Linked DNA regions of Homo sapiens. The protein of the gene in region 1 purifies or fractionates together with the protein of each later gene. This does not show direct contact. Each region holds a gene or a part of one and is shown on either strand. Other genes may lie near its edges.

The links. Proteins that work in one complex are often made in the same cells at the same time.
Region 2: the proteins of OSBPL8 (region 1) and GLG1 purify together in Homo sapiens (co-immunoprecipitation; 3 studies listed by BioGRID and IntAct, with this or other methods). This does not show direct contact.

Annotation. Positions count from the first base shown.
Region 1 is NC_000012.12:76,549,769-76,556,805, forward strand, and holds part of OSBPL8 (oxysterol-binding protein-related protein 8), read right to left. Parts: intron 1-7,037. UniProt on the Homo sapiens protein: Lipid transporter involved in lipid countertransport between the endoplasmic reticulum and the plasma membrane: specifically exchanges phosphatidylserine with phosphatidylinositol 4-phosphate (PI4P), delivering phosphatidylserine to the plasma membrane in exchange for PI4P, which is degraded by the SAC1/SACM1L phosphatase in the endoplasmic reticulum.
Region 2 is NC_000016.10:74,597,099-74,604,135, forward strand, and holds part of GLG1 (Golgi apparatus protein 1 isoform 3 precursor), read right to left. Parts: intron 1-7,037. UniProt on the Homo sapiens protein: Binds fibroblast growth factor and E-selectin (cell-adhesion lectin on endothelial cells mediating the binding of neutrophils).

The DNA.
Region 1 (7,037 bases):
CTAACAATATTGTACCCAGCCAAATTATCAATCATTTGTGAGAATAGAATGGAGACTTTTTTACACAGAATTCGGAAAGTTTGCCTCTCATACATACTTCTTTTTCAAAGAGTTATTTGAAGATGTACTCCAATAAACAGATCAAGCAGATGCAAAAAAAAAAAAGGAAAAAAAAATATGTATAACAGAATGGATCCAATTCAAGAGTAAGGAGAAAGGAAGTTACAAGAAAAGACCTAGAAGAGTCCAAATGGAGGCAGAGTTACAGACAAATACAGATAAATAGAGAATGCAGCACAAAAGGCAGTATGCTGAAGAGTTGGGGTGTGGGGGGGCTGGGGTGTAGGGGAGGCTATAATAGAGGCATATAGTACAAGAAAAGAGGGCAATTTAAGACACTAAGAAAAACAGGAAGTCCTATTCAAAAACTTTTTTAATTCCAAAGTTAGATTTTGGTCATATCCAAATTTTTTTTTAATTTGATGGTCAGAATTGATAAAATAAATAAAGTCTACTAATTCTCTATATTATCAACATGTTTCTTCTGGCAGCCCAGGGACAGAAAAGGAATAATCATCTAAGCACATTATCTGGCTTAGCATTAAATAATACTTACACAGTCATGGTATCAACACTATTTATTGGTTTTCATAATTTAGAGACAACCTGTGGACATGACAGCTGAGATTACAGGGGAAAAAACGTGTATTTGTTTAGGCCAGGGGTGTCCAATCATTTGGCTTCCCTGGACCACACTGGAAGAGAAGAATTGTCTTGGGCCACCCATAAAATACACTAACACTAACAATAGCTGATGAGCTTTAAAAAACAAAAAAATCTCCTTATGTTTTAAGAAAGTTTATGAATTTGTGTTGGGCCGCATTCAAAACTGTCCTGGGCCGTGCGCAGCTCACCAGCCAGGGATTGGACAAGCTTAGTCTAGCCAATAAAAAGTACAGCTACTGGTTTAGAAGAAATAATCACAAGGTAATAAATGGAAAATTCAAGTAATTTCTAAAGCTGATAAAGAGAAAGGTGAATCAACATTAAGGCTGGGTACCAGGGTTCATGCCTGTAATCCCAACATTTTGGGAGGCAGGAGTTCAAATTCAGCCTATGCAAAATAGCGAAACCCTGTCTGTACAAAAAAAATAAAGTAGCCAGCCACAGTGGCACAAACCTGTAGTCCTAGCTACTGGGGAAGGTGAGGCAGGAGGATCCTTTGAGCTCAGGAATTCTGCACTCCAGCCTGGAGTGCAGGAGACAGGAGGAGACTCTGTCACTCAAAAAATAATACAAACATATATATAGTATATCAAGGAAGAGAGGAAAACACACACACACACACTAGAAACTAGGATGTTTTATAAAAACAACATAGCTTCCTTTATTGGATATACAGAAATGAACTGCTCCCCATGAACCTTACCCAACCCCTAAAAGGGGAAAAAGTTCTTTAATTAAGGATAATAGTTTCTTTCCATTTAAAATCATTTCTTTCAGATTCACTCATTCACTCAATCTTTAAAGCAGTAGTTCTCTACTGAGAGTGACCTTGTCCCCAGGGAACATCTGGCAATATCTTGAAACATTTTTCATTGTCACAATTAAGAAAGATGGTACTAGCATCTAGTGAGTAGAGGCCAGGGATGGTGCTATACATTCTACAATGCACAGGAACACACAACAAAGAATTATCCAGCCCAAAATATCAACAGAGTCAAGTTAAGAAACCCTACTTTAAGAAAACTCTTCAGACTTGTATAGATTTTCTCTGTTCCTCATTCTTATCATGGTGACTGGGCGTAAGATAAAGCTTTCATGGGCATCTGGAGTATTATGATTAGCCTGAATACAGACCCATGGATTGCCCTGGGGATCCTCACAGGCCTCTAAGGTTTGAATATTGGCCCTCACAGAGTCACAATGGCACATGCTGATGAATATGTTGGAACAGTATCCAGAGGATCTCCTAACTTGGCCCCACCCACCTCAGCTCCTGCTGGTACGGATATTATTACAGTCTCGACTACCTCGTCTATCCAGTCCCTGGCTTATACTTAAGGCAACACTAGCTGCTTAACAAATAAACCCCAGATTTTCGGTAGCTTCACACAATTAAAATTTCTCATTAATATTACAATCCATTGTGGGTATTCCTATTTGGTACACAAATTTCTTTCACATGGTAAATTTAGGGACTGTAGAACATTCCAATCTTATGGTTTTACTATCCCTTAAGAGCCTAAACCTCTGCATCTGGCCCTTGAATTAGAAAAGAGAAGGTGAAGAAAGAATACCTATTTTTTCTGCCACTTCAACCCAGAAGTGACAACAAATTGATTTCTATTCACATTCACTAGTGAAAAACTAGTGGCAGGCACAGTGGCTCACACCTGTAATGCCAGCACTTTGGGAGGCTGAGGCGGGCAGATCGCTTGAACTCAGCAGTTAGAGACCAGCCTGGGCAACATGGTGAAACCCCATCTCTACCAAAAATACAAAAAATTTGCCAGGCACGGTGGCACATCCCTGTAGTACCAGCTACTCGGAAGGCTAAGGCACAAGAATCACTTGAGCCCAGGAGGCGAAGGTTGCAGTGAGCCAAGATCCTGCCACTGCACTCTGGCCTGAGCAACAGAGCGATACCCCATGTCTCCAAAAAAAAAAAAAAAAAAAAAAAAAAAATGTTGCAAGCAAGAGGGAGCACAAATTTTTGTGGGCAATGAAATGAATCTGCCCTTCCCACAACCTCTGTCTACTACATGGTCCCTCCCTCACAATAGCAGCCTAATGACAGGCTTCCTGGCTCTCACTCTACTAACTTCTATTTCCTTCACTAGTCATATGTGAGAACATCCAGATCTCTTTCAGACCATGTAAGAACCATGGAAAACTCACAGAGTGCTATCTCTGGCCCCCTCTCTGCTTAAATATGCCATTTTCTTCCCTTTTGGCCACCCCAAGTCAGCATAGGGCCAGTGCAATAGGCTAGTAAGTGGCTGTACCAGTTCTGAACTTTGGCAGTCTGGCTCCAGGGTTCGTGCTATTCTGCCTCTCCAGATTTCTAAAATAGGTGATAAGACAGAGCACTTCCATTACTACCAATGGATATTTGTAAAGCACCTACATCTTGCAAAACAGCCTAGAACTATTACAAACTCCACACTATGATGCACAGCACTGCTTTTCTTTACTTCCAAATTGCTGATCTTACAAGTTATTATAATCATAACAATGCACAAAATTACACACTAAGCAAAGCTAGTCTCCAGAAGTCCCTCATCCTACTCTCCACTTGAACAATGTACCTGTGCCCTCACATCCAAAGCACCCCACCTCATTACTCTACCCGGTAATAATGTTACTTAGATTGAACTTCTCTCTCTCCAGATCTACCATACTTCCATCCCATCAAAATATACCAACATAGATTCCATAATTTCCACATGGGCCCCAGCCTTCCTTGTAAAAAATTATGTAATCTGACAAACTATTCCTGCTAATATGTAGGCATTTGGCAGCCAAAAAGCAAAAATTACCTTACTGGTGGTCATCTCAACAGGACAGATTTCAACTGTACAGATCTGTGTCCCTCAAATATCACTAAATAGGCCTGGCATGGCAGCTCACATCTATAATCCCAGCACTTTGGGAGACCAAGGTGGGAGAATCATTTGAGGCTAGGGGTTCAAGACCAAGCTGGGCAACATAGTGAGACTCTGTTTCTAAAAAAAAAAAAAAAAACTTAAAAATTAGCCAGGTGTGATGGTATTCGCCTGTAGTCCCAGCTACTTGGGAGGCAGAGACAGGAGGATCACTTGAGCCTGGGAGGTCGAGGCTGCAGTGAGCCATGGTAGTGAGTGCCACTGCACTCCAGCCTAGGTGACAGCTCAAGACCCTGTATCAGAAGAAAAAAAAAAAAGGCCAGAGGAGGTAGCTCACGCCTGTAATCTCAACACTTTGGGAGGACGAGGCAGGTGGATCACTTTACGTCAGGAGTTCGAGAACAGCCTGGCCAATATGGTGAAACCCCATCTCTACTAAAAATACAAAAAATTAGCTGGGCATGGTGGCATGCACCCGTAATCCCAGCTACTCAGGAGGCTCAGGCATGAGAATCACTTGAAACCGGGAGGCAGAGGTTGCAGTGAGCCAAGATCACACTACTGCACTCCAGCCTAGGTGACACAGTGAGACTCTATCTCAAAAAAAAAAAAAAAAAAACACTAAAAAAAAATGCATACCAATTCTGTGAATCAGCCTTATTCTTTAAAACTATTTTTTAATTATAACAACTTAGCTTTAAATACTGTTATCTATTATGTTCTTTAATTTCCAGTTACTCCGAAATTCTCTGAAATTCCCCAGTGAGAAAATGGCAACTGGATGAACAATAAAATAAATATTTGCTTTACTCTAAGTATTTTTAAGATTTAAAAATAGGATGTCAGTCAAATACAAGTAAAATGAGAGAAAAAAAATCAAGGCTATATTCCATCTTCTTATAAAGTAAAGTGCATTTTGTAAATGACACAACTAAAACAGACTCAGGAAGATCACAAGGTCAAGACGTATCAAGAGGAGCAACTGCAAATAAATTATACAAGGCAGTATATAATATGATGGTTAAAAGGATAGGCTCCAAAGTCAAAGGTCAGGTTAAACCTCAAGTTTAAATCCTTTTAGTAGGCTCTACCACCTACTACTTAACTTCTCTGTGCCTCAGGTTTAGTTCAAATCCTGGCTCCACCACTTATTTAATCTGTCAGTTGCTCAGGTTTAAAAAAAAGAAAATAGCCTGATTGCGGGGTGGTTGTCAGGATCAAATGTGATGACATGTCAAGTACTTCTAGAGTAGTACAGTACCTGGTATATAGCAGTTGACGCACATTAGCTATTAATATGACCTATAACAATTTCCCTCTGAATCTATCAAGTTTTCAAAAACTCTAAATCAAAAAGCTTCTCCTTTTTATTTGAAAAAAGTCAAGCTCTGAAACCATTTCCTCTTTTTTTCAGTCCTTTTTGAATATGGAAATTAGTAGGTAACTGGCTTATCATTTGATGACTCTTCTTAGTCTTTGTATAATAAAAAGGCTCAAGACTCTTCTTAGTCTTTTTATAATAAAATTCTCTTCCAAATATTATACAAAGGACAGACTGCTCCATGGATCAAAAACACTACAAAGAGTTCACAAAGTATAATGAAATTCTGAGATTCATAAATGAACAGCTACTGGCACAAAAAGCTTAGATAAGAAATAATGCAGATGTCTGTTTGTTTGCTCAAGAAATACTGAATTTTATAATAAAACACAGATGGTAGAGATCTTCATGGCTTATAGTCACATCACTAAAAACAGAAAATATTTTTGGTAAATTTTTTCTTAACAACCAGAAAACCCCTTATTTCATCACAACAATGAATAGATAAATGACATTACAGGCAAAGACAATTTCTTCAAAAACAAATTACGTAGAGAAAAAAAGCTTAAAGGCTCAGATTTTCAGCTACACATATCCCTTACTTTGAGCTTCAAAAATTTGAGGCTTCTAGCACTCCTTGTGGTCTGTAACATTAAGCAGTAATACAATTAGGCCTCATTTCTACCAGAAAACATTAAACTGACTGAAAGAAAATTATCTAGAATTTTGATTCTGATCAATTTAAACATAATGCCATGAGTCATCTAGATGAGTCAAGCAAATATTAGAGTTCATGATAAACGAATCAAAATATGTTTTAAAGATCTGCAGACAAACGTTTTAATAATTTTGTATTTGCTGAAGTCCTCCTATGTGTGACACATTGAGGTAGGCACATTCATATTGAGGTATGCACTTTCACATGCATTATATAACTTTGTTCTCCCAACGATCATGGATTATTATCCTGATTTTACAAATGAGAAAACTAAGACCAAGTGATTGGCCGATGGAAACGACGCTTGTATAAGATTCAGTCAGAACACCAATTCAAATTTTCTGACCCTTATCGTACTTCCAAAACTCAAGTACTGTCAATCTCTGCTGTTGCAAAGCAAGTTAATCTTTTTATTTAGGGAGAGGTGAAAATAGAGATGGGAGAATAAAAATTCTTCATAATGTTACAAAAAAAGACTTACTGTGCTTTATCTGACATAATTTATTCAGTCTGACTTAAATGCTTTGCTGCACGTTGTCTACCCCCTTAGACACTGCTTATCTTCAGACACACAGCCCACACCAAAACCTAACTCAAGAATCACCTCCTCCAAGAAAGTTTCCCAGATTAAATGACCTGTTCCCCTTCTCCCAAGCTAACATCCTTCCTTTATCATTTCGCTGCTTGCATTTAGTTTGGACTACATTATCAGATACTCCTTTTGTTCTCCAGTCATATATCTGGAAGTAGACTTTTTTCATTCATTAACTATTGAACATTTGGAGATTCAATGGTGAGCAAAACAGACAAGGTCCTTGCTATCATGGAGAATTTACATTATCTGGATCTTCGACAAAGGTAAAAATAACAGGGTATAAGAATATGATGCTCTAGGACTAGGATTTCTTCCCTATAAGGTCTCCGAAAATAGCTCTCTCCCTTGCAAGCTTGATAACACTTTTCAGGAAGAAAAATTCCTTCTATCACGCCTTCCACATGAGAATTTTATGACTTTGTGAGGATATGTGAGGGATGGGGACCAAGGTGGGAAGAAAGATCTAAAATCTCTCAGGGGTTTCCCACATACTGCCATGAAATATGCACACAACATGAGTCTAGACATCTCTTCCTGTGTCTCATCACAAGGAAGCTATACTTTGGCCACAACTGCTCCAGTCAAGCACTTCTACTAATCTCCTTGTACCCAGCCACCTTCACTAAAAATTGTATATTTCTCAGAGGCTTTTTGTTTTTTTGGTGTTTTTTGAGACTGAGTCTTGCTCTATCGCCCAGGCTGGAGTGCAATGGCATGATCTTGGCTCGTTGCAATCTCTGTCTCCTGGGTTCATGCGATTCTCCTGCCTCAGCCTCCCAAGTAGCTGGGATTACA
Region 2 (7,037 bases), on another chromosome or scaffold:
AGAGAGTGAGACCTCGTCTCAAACAAACAAAAAAAAAACCCAAAACAAAACTCACCAGGCACAGTGGCTCACGCCTGTAATCCCAGCACTTTGGGAGGCCGAGGCGGGAGGATCACCAGGTCAAGAGATCAAGACCAGCATGTCCAACATGGCGAAACCCCGTCTCTAGTAAAAATACAAAAATTACCTGGGCGTGGTGGGGTGCGCCTATAGTCCCAGCTACTCAGGAGGCTGAGGCAGGAGAATCGCTTGAACCAGGGAGGCTGAGGTTGCAGTGAGCTGACATCATGCCACTGCCCTCCAGCCTGGATGACAGAGTGAGACTCCATCTCAAAAAAAAAAAAAAAGAAAGAAAAAAGAAAAAAAAAGCTCCGGTGATAGATGGTGGTGCAAGCAGATCACCTGAGGTCAGGAGTTCAAGACCAGCATAGCCAACATGGCGAAATCCTGCCTCTACTAAAAAAACAAAAATTAGCCGGGCGCAGTGGCTCACGCCTGTAATCCCAACACTTTGGGAGGCCGAAGCTGGCGGATAACGAGGTCAGGAGATTGAGACCATCCTGACTAACACAGTGAAATCCCATCTCTACTAAAAAATACAAAAAATTAGCCGGGCATGGTGGCGGGCGCCTGTAGTCCCAGCTACTCGGGAGGCTGAAGCAGGAGAATGGCGTGAACCCGGGAGGTGGAGCTTGCAGTGAGCTGAGATCGCACCACTGCACTCCAGCCTGGGTGACAAAGTGAGACTGCCTCAAAAAAAAAAAAAAAAAAGCTGGACATGGTGGTGTGTACCTGTAGTCCTAGCTACTCATGAGGCTGAGGCAGGAGAATCGCTTGAACCCGGGAGCCAGAGATTACAGTGAGCTGAGATCACACCACTGCACTCCAGCCTGGGCGTCAAGAGCAAGACTCTGTCTCGAAAACAAAATCAAACAAACAAAATCAATAAGAATGATAATAATAAAACATCTCTCATAAGATTAAATGAGATAACGCCTAGAAAGCATCCAGTCCCTCAGAACAGGGCACACAGAAAACCCTCAGTAAATGCTAACCATTATAAGTAGCAGTAGTATACTTGAACACTGAGCAGTGTCTTGCACACAGGTTTCAATAAATGTTTGCTGAAAGAAGAAAAATTGGTCGGGCGCGGTGGCTCACGCCTGTAATCCCAGCACTTTGGGAGGCCAAGGCGGGCGGATCACGAGGTCAAGAGATCAAGACCATCCTGGCCAACATGGTGAAACCCCGTCTCTACTAAAAATACAAAAAATTAGCCGGGCGTGGTGGCGGGCGCCTGTAGTCCCAGCTACTCGGGAGGCTGAGGAAGGAGAATCACTTGAACCCAGGAGGTGGAGGTTGCAGTGAGCCGAGATCGCGCCACTGCACTCTAGCTTGGTGACAGAATGAGACTCCATCTCAAAAAAAAAAAGAAAAAAGAAAGAAGAAAAATTAATTTACATGATAGCCTATAAGCCATTTTAACTGCTGCTTTTAAAAATATATAAATAAGGCCGGGCGCGGTGGCTCACGTCTGTAATCCCAACACTTTGGGAGACTGAGGTGGGTGGATTGCCTGAGGTCAGGAGTTTGAGACCACCCTGGTCAACATGGTGAAACCTCGTCTCTACAAAAATTAGCCGGGTGTGCTGGCAAGTGCCTATAATCCCAGCTACTCGGGAGGCTGAGGCAGGAGAATGGCTTGAACCCGAGAGGTGGAGGTTGCAGTGAGTCGAGATCATTCCACTTCACTCCAGCCTGAGCAAGAGCGAAACTCCACCTCAAAACAACAACAACAAATATATAAATATATATATATATAACTTATATAAAGAGGAGATTTTTGTTATTGTTCCTGAGTAAATTTGTTTTGAACACATTAGGAGAAATGCACAAAAGAGAAATACAGCATTTCATCTTTTGGACTGTTCAAGTATTTTATTTCCTTCTACAGAACAATGAATTATTAAGCAACTATATACTGTAAAGCATTCTCATCAAGAGATTTCTTAAAAAGTATTTGCCATAAACGACAATGCTACTTTACAGGTAATTCTCAATTATCTGCTGTAATATTTTTATCTGAGGTAGGGATAAAAACATCCCATTTCTGGACTTTACTTGGAGAACCAGCTAGAGGTGAATATACGACCCTTCATGACCTGGACTGAAAACATTTTCAAGTTCTCTATTTCGGTCAATACAGCCCCTTTAATAATTCCCCAAAGCATCTCCCCTTTCCACCTGTGCTACGACTCTCTTGCACACGTTTTGTATTCCCACAGATCACAAAATCACAAAGCACCGGAGCTGGAAGAATCTTAAGAGATAATCCAAGGCCAGGAGCGGTGGCTCACGCCTGTAATCCCACCACTTTGGGAGGCCAAGGCGGGTGGGATTACCTGAGGTCAGGAGTTCAAGACCAGCCTGGCCAACATGGTGAAAACCCGTCTCTACTAAAAATACAAAAATTAGCCAAGCCTCGGCCGGACACAGTGGCTCACGCCTGTCATCTCAGCACTTTCGGAGGCCGAGGTGGGCAGATCACGAGGTCAGGAGATCGAGACCATCCTGGCCAACATGGTGAAACCCCGTCTCTACTAAAAATGCAAAAAATTAGCCGGGCATGGTGGTGGGCGCCTGTAGTCCCAGCTACTCGGGAGGCTGAGGCAGGAGAATGGCGTGAACCCGGGAGGTAGAGCTTGCAGTGAGCCGAGATCGCGCCACTGCACTCCAGCCTGGGTGACAGAGCTAGACTCTGTCTCAAAAAAAAAACAAAAAAAAAATTAGCCAGGCATGGTGGCTGGTGCCTGTAATCCCTGCTACTAGAGAGGTGGAGCCAGGAGAATCGCTTGAATACAGGAGACAAAGGTTGCAGTGAGGTGAGATCGCGCCACTGCACTCCAGCCTGGGTGACAGTGCGAGACTCCGTCTTAACCAAAAGCAAAACAAAACAAAAAAACAACAGAGAAAGATAATCCAGTGTTAGTGCTTTCTGAAGCATGTGCTATTGGTAATATGCAAGATGATTTCAGGTGGTATGTGTTGGTACTTATATTTTATAGTCATATATTTAGTTTCATATATATTAGAGAAGTATACCTACCACATCAAATTCATGAGTTCACGTATATTTCCGCTTAGAACAAGGCTAAGTGGTGTTGTGTACCTATAGTCCCAGCTACTCGGGAGGCTGAAGTGGGAGGAGAGCTTGAGCCCAGGAGTTTGAGGTTGCAGTGAGCCATGATCATGCCACTGCACTCCAGCCAGCCTGGGAGATAGAGTAAGACTTTCAAAGAAAAAAAAGAACAAGGACAAAGCTAAAGTAGACAGTCCTTGCTTAAGAAAAGAGGCCGGGTGCACTGGTTTACACCTGTAATCCTAGCACTTTGGGAGGCCAAGACAGGCAGATCACTTGAGGTCAGAGGTTCAAGACCAGCCTGGCCAGTGTGGCGAAACCCCCGTTTTACTAAAAATACAAAAATTAGCCGGGTGTGGTAGCGCATGTCTGCAGTCCCAGCTACTCGGGAGGCTGAGGCAGAAAAATCACTTGAACCCAGGAGGCAGAGGTTGCAGTGAGCCAAGAATACGCCATTGCACTCCAATCTGGGCGACTGAGAAAGATTCCACCTCAAAAAAAAAAAAAAAAAAAAAAACAAAAAAAAACAGTGACAGAAATTTCAAGCTAAGAATAGCAGAGCTGTGTTCCACCCAAATCTAAATCCTAATTTTGTCTTATTACACTGCCCTAAAATAATTTACTATCTGTATGACATCAAGTGATTAACACTCTTATATAATCGCTTCTCGATCACAACAATCTCACTTATCAAACCAACTGTAAGCAATGGTGGTGTCTTAAAGTACTAGTGTCCTTCCACAATGATAGGTGTATAATAGAAGATCAATAATGACTTGATTATGTGGTTAGATTGCTTCCAACCAGACAGACAGCATAGGAGGAAATTCCATATTGGCTCAAACAAAACAATCATAATATATCCTAAAGCCAAACAATGTTTGGATTAATTGCTGTTTGAATTATTCATTGTCACTGATTCCCTCCATGAATGAATATGGAATCAGGAACTGGTACATATATAATCCTAGAAACTTTACAATATATACATACCCAGAGAATATATACAGGAAACGACTCATATAAGTTAGACAGCAGAGATCTTAGAAACCGTACTGTAGGGGCAGGGTGTGGTGGCTCCGCCTGTAACCTCAGCATCCGGGAGGCAGAGGAGGGTGGGTCGGTTGAGCTCAGGAGTTAGAGACCAACCTGGGCAACCCGGCAAGACCTTGTCTCTCTTAAAATTAAAAAAAAAAAAAAGTATACCCCAACTACTCATTTAACACATCAGGAAGCAGAGAGAGAAAATGCTTACAGTCATTTGTTAGTTAATGGCACTGACAGCTCTAGTCTCAGTTCACTTTTTGTGATGTTCCATGGATTCAATATAAATATCAAGGAAATACAACTAAATGCTTCCAGTGTTCTAGTACAAATCCTGCTTAAGGTGAGTTGGGATTTGAAACTCTTTTCATAAAGCAGAAATTCGGTTTATGATGCACTCAGACTAATTAAATTAGCGTTGGGTGATAACGCATTTGCCTGAGAAATCTACAAATACTTCAATGCACTGTTACAACTCAGTTGTTCTTGTGTCCCATTTAGCATACATTTATAAACCTATGGCATTCTCAACAGTCACAGACTAATGTCCTTAGCTACAACCACCCATGGTACATTAGAAAGAGTATGGTCTTTTAAGTCAAAAAGGACTTCCTGAACACCAGCTCTACCACTTAGGATATAACATCAGACAACTTACTTTAGCTCTTTGAGCCTATTTCTCTGCTAAAAGAATAACACTAGCACTAGCACTAGCACCTCATTATCATTATCATTGATAATGATAGTCATTATCAACAGTGAGACAATAGAGATGGTGTAGTCCACTATCTCAAGTATACAGTTAAGTGAAAGGTTAAAAGCAGAGTATAAAAATATTTACCTATGAGTCTAAAAGGGGGTTTATGGTTTGCAACACTGAAATGTTAATTCCTGTTCAATACCTAAATTAGTTTATTTAAATATTTACAAAGCATTCACTCTGTGCAAAGCTTAGAGCATGGCTACAAATTTATAATCTGAGACTGATATATCAAGAAAAGGTGGCAAGAAAGAATTTTTTTATGTTTTTCTTTTTAGTGTCAGAATTACTTGCAAAAGAAAGATTATACATTTAAATACAAAAACAAACAAAAAAAACCTTCTAGTTTTTAAAAAGTATTTATCACAGACATGCTTGAAGTATTTGAAATGACAGTATCTGGGATTTGCTTTTAAATATGCCAGCCTCCCAACCCTGTGCCCTAAAAATAAAAGGGCGGGGCTGGGCGCGGTGACTCACGCCTGTAATCCCAGCACTTTGGGAGGCCGAGGCGGGCAGATCACGAGGTCAGGAGTTCGAGACTAGCCTGGCCAATATAGTGAAACCCTGTCTCTACTAAAAAATACAAAAATTAGCCGGGTGTGGTGGCGGATGCCTGTAGTCCCAGCTACTTGGGAGGCTGAAGCAGGAAAATCGCTTGAACTCGGGAGGCTGAGGTTGCAGTGAGCCAAGATCGTGCCCCTGCACTCCAGCCTGGGTGACAGAGTGAGACTCTGTCTCTCAAAAAAAAAAAAGGGTGGGAACAGTTGAAGCTGGGTGATGTATACCCAGGGACTCATTACCCTATTCTCTCTACTTCTGTGTAAGAAAATCTATGGGGCACGCACAATGGCTCATGCCTGTAATCCAGCAGTTTGGGAGGCCGACGCAGGCAGATCACCTAAGGTGAGGAGTTCAAGACCAGCCTGGCCAAGGTGATGAAGAGGCTGAGACAGGAGAATCACTTGAACCCAGAAGGCAGAGGTTGCAGTGAGCCAAGATTGTGCCACTGCACTCCAGCCTGAGCAACAGGGCAAGACTTCGTCTCAAACAACAACAACAACAACAACAGCAGCAGCAGCAGCAGCAGCCAGGCGCAATAGCTCATGACTGTAATCCCAGCACTTTGGGAGACCAAGGTGGGCAGATCATGAGGTCAGGAGATCAAGACTATCCTGGCCAACATGGTGAAACTCTGTCTCTACTAAAAATACAAAAATTAGCTGGGCGAGGTGGTGCGTGCCTGTAATCCCAGCTACTTGGGACGCTGAGGCAGAAGAACTGCTTGAACCAGGGAGTCAGAGGTTGCAGTGAGCCGAGATCACACCACTGCACTCCAGCCTGGCAACAGAATAAGACTCCGTCTCAAAAAAAAAAAAAAAAGAAAATCTAATCTATGAACATCACAAACTTTTTATTAGAGACGGTGTCTCACTATGTTGCCAGGCTGGTACTGAACTCCTAGCTCAAGCAATCCTCCTGCCTCAGCCTCCCAAAGGGCTAGGATTTCAAGTGTGAGCCACTGCGCCCGGCTGAACACCACAAACTTCTAAGGAACCAAGGTCTCCATCTGAAACTTCGAAATACAAGACACTAGTGGAAAAAAAAAAAGTGCTACTGGCCATTTCAACCAAGAATAAGTAAAGTATTTTAAAATGACTGACAACATCAAGCATGCCTTCCTTATCACATACTAAGCAACAGTATCTTCTCTTTCTTTGGTATTATTACTCCACCTACTAGAACAGCCCAGGGAATATTTTTTCTTTTCTGCCTTACACTTTCTAATTTTTTGTTTTTATTTAAATAACTTGAACTACTAATAATTATACACACACAACTAGGACTACTAACACACCATTACTGGCTATTACATCTATTATTTCATAGTGGACCCATGATATACTTGGCCTTTTTAAAAGCATGACTCATCCGAGAGCGTTAAAAAAAAAAAAAAAGAATCCCAAGGCCAGGCACAGTGGCTCACAACTCTAATCCCAGCACTTTGGAAAGCCCAGCTGGGAAGATCACTTGAACCCGGAATGTGGAGGCTTCAGTGAACTCTCAAACCCAGAAGACTGAGGCTGCAGTGAG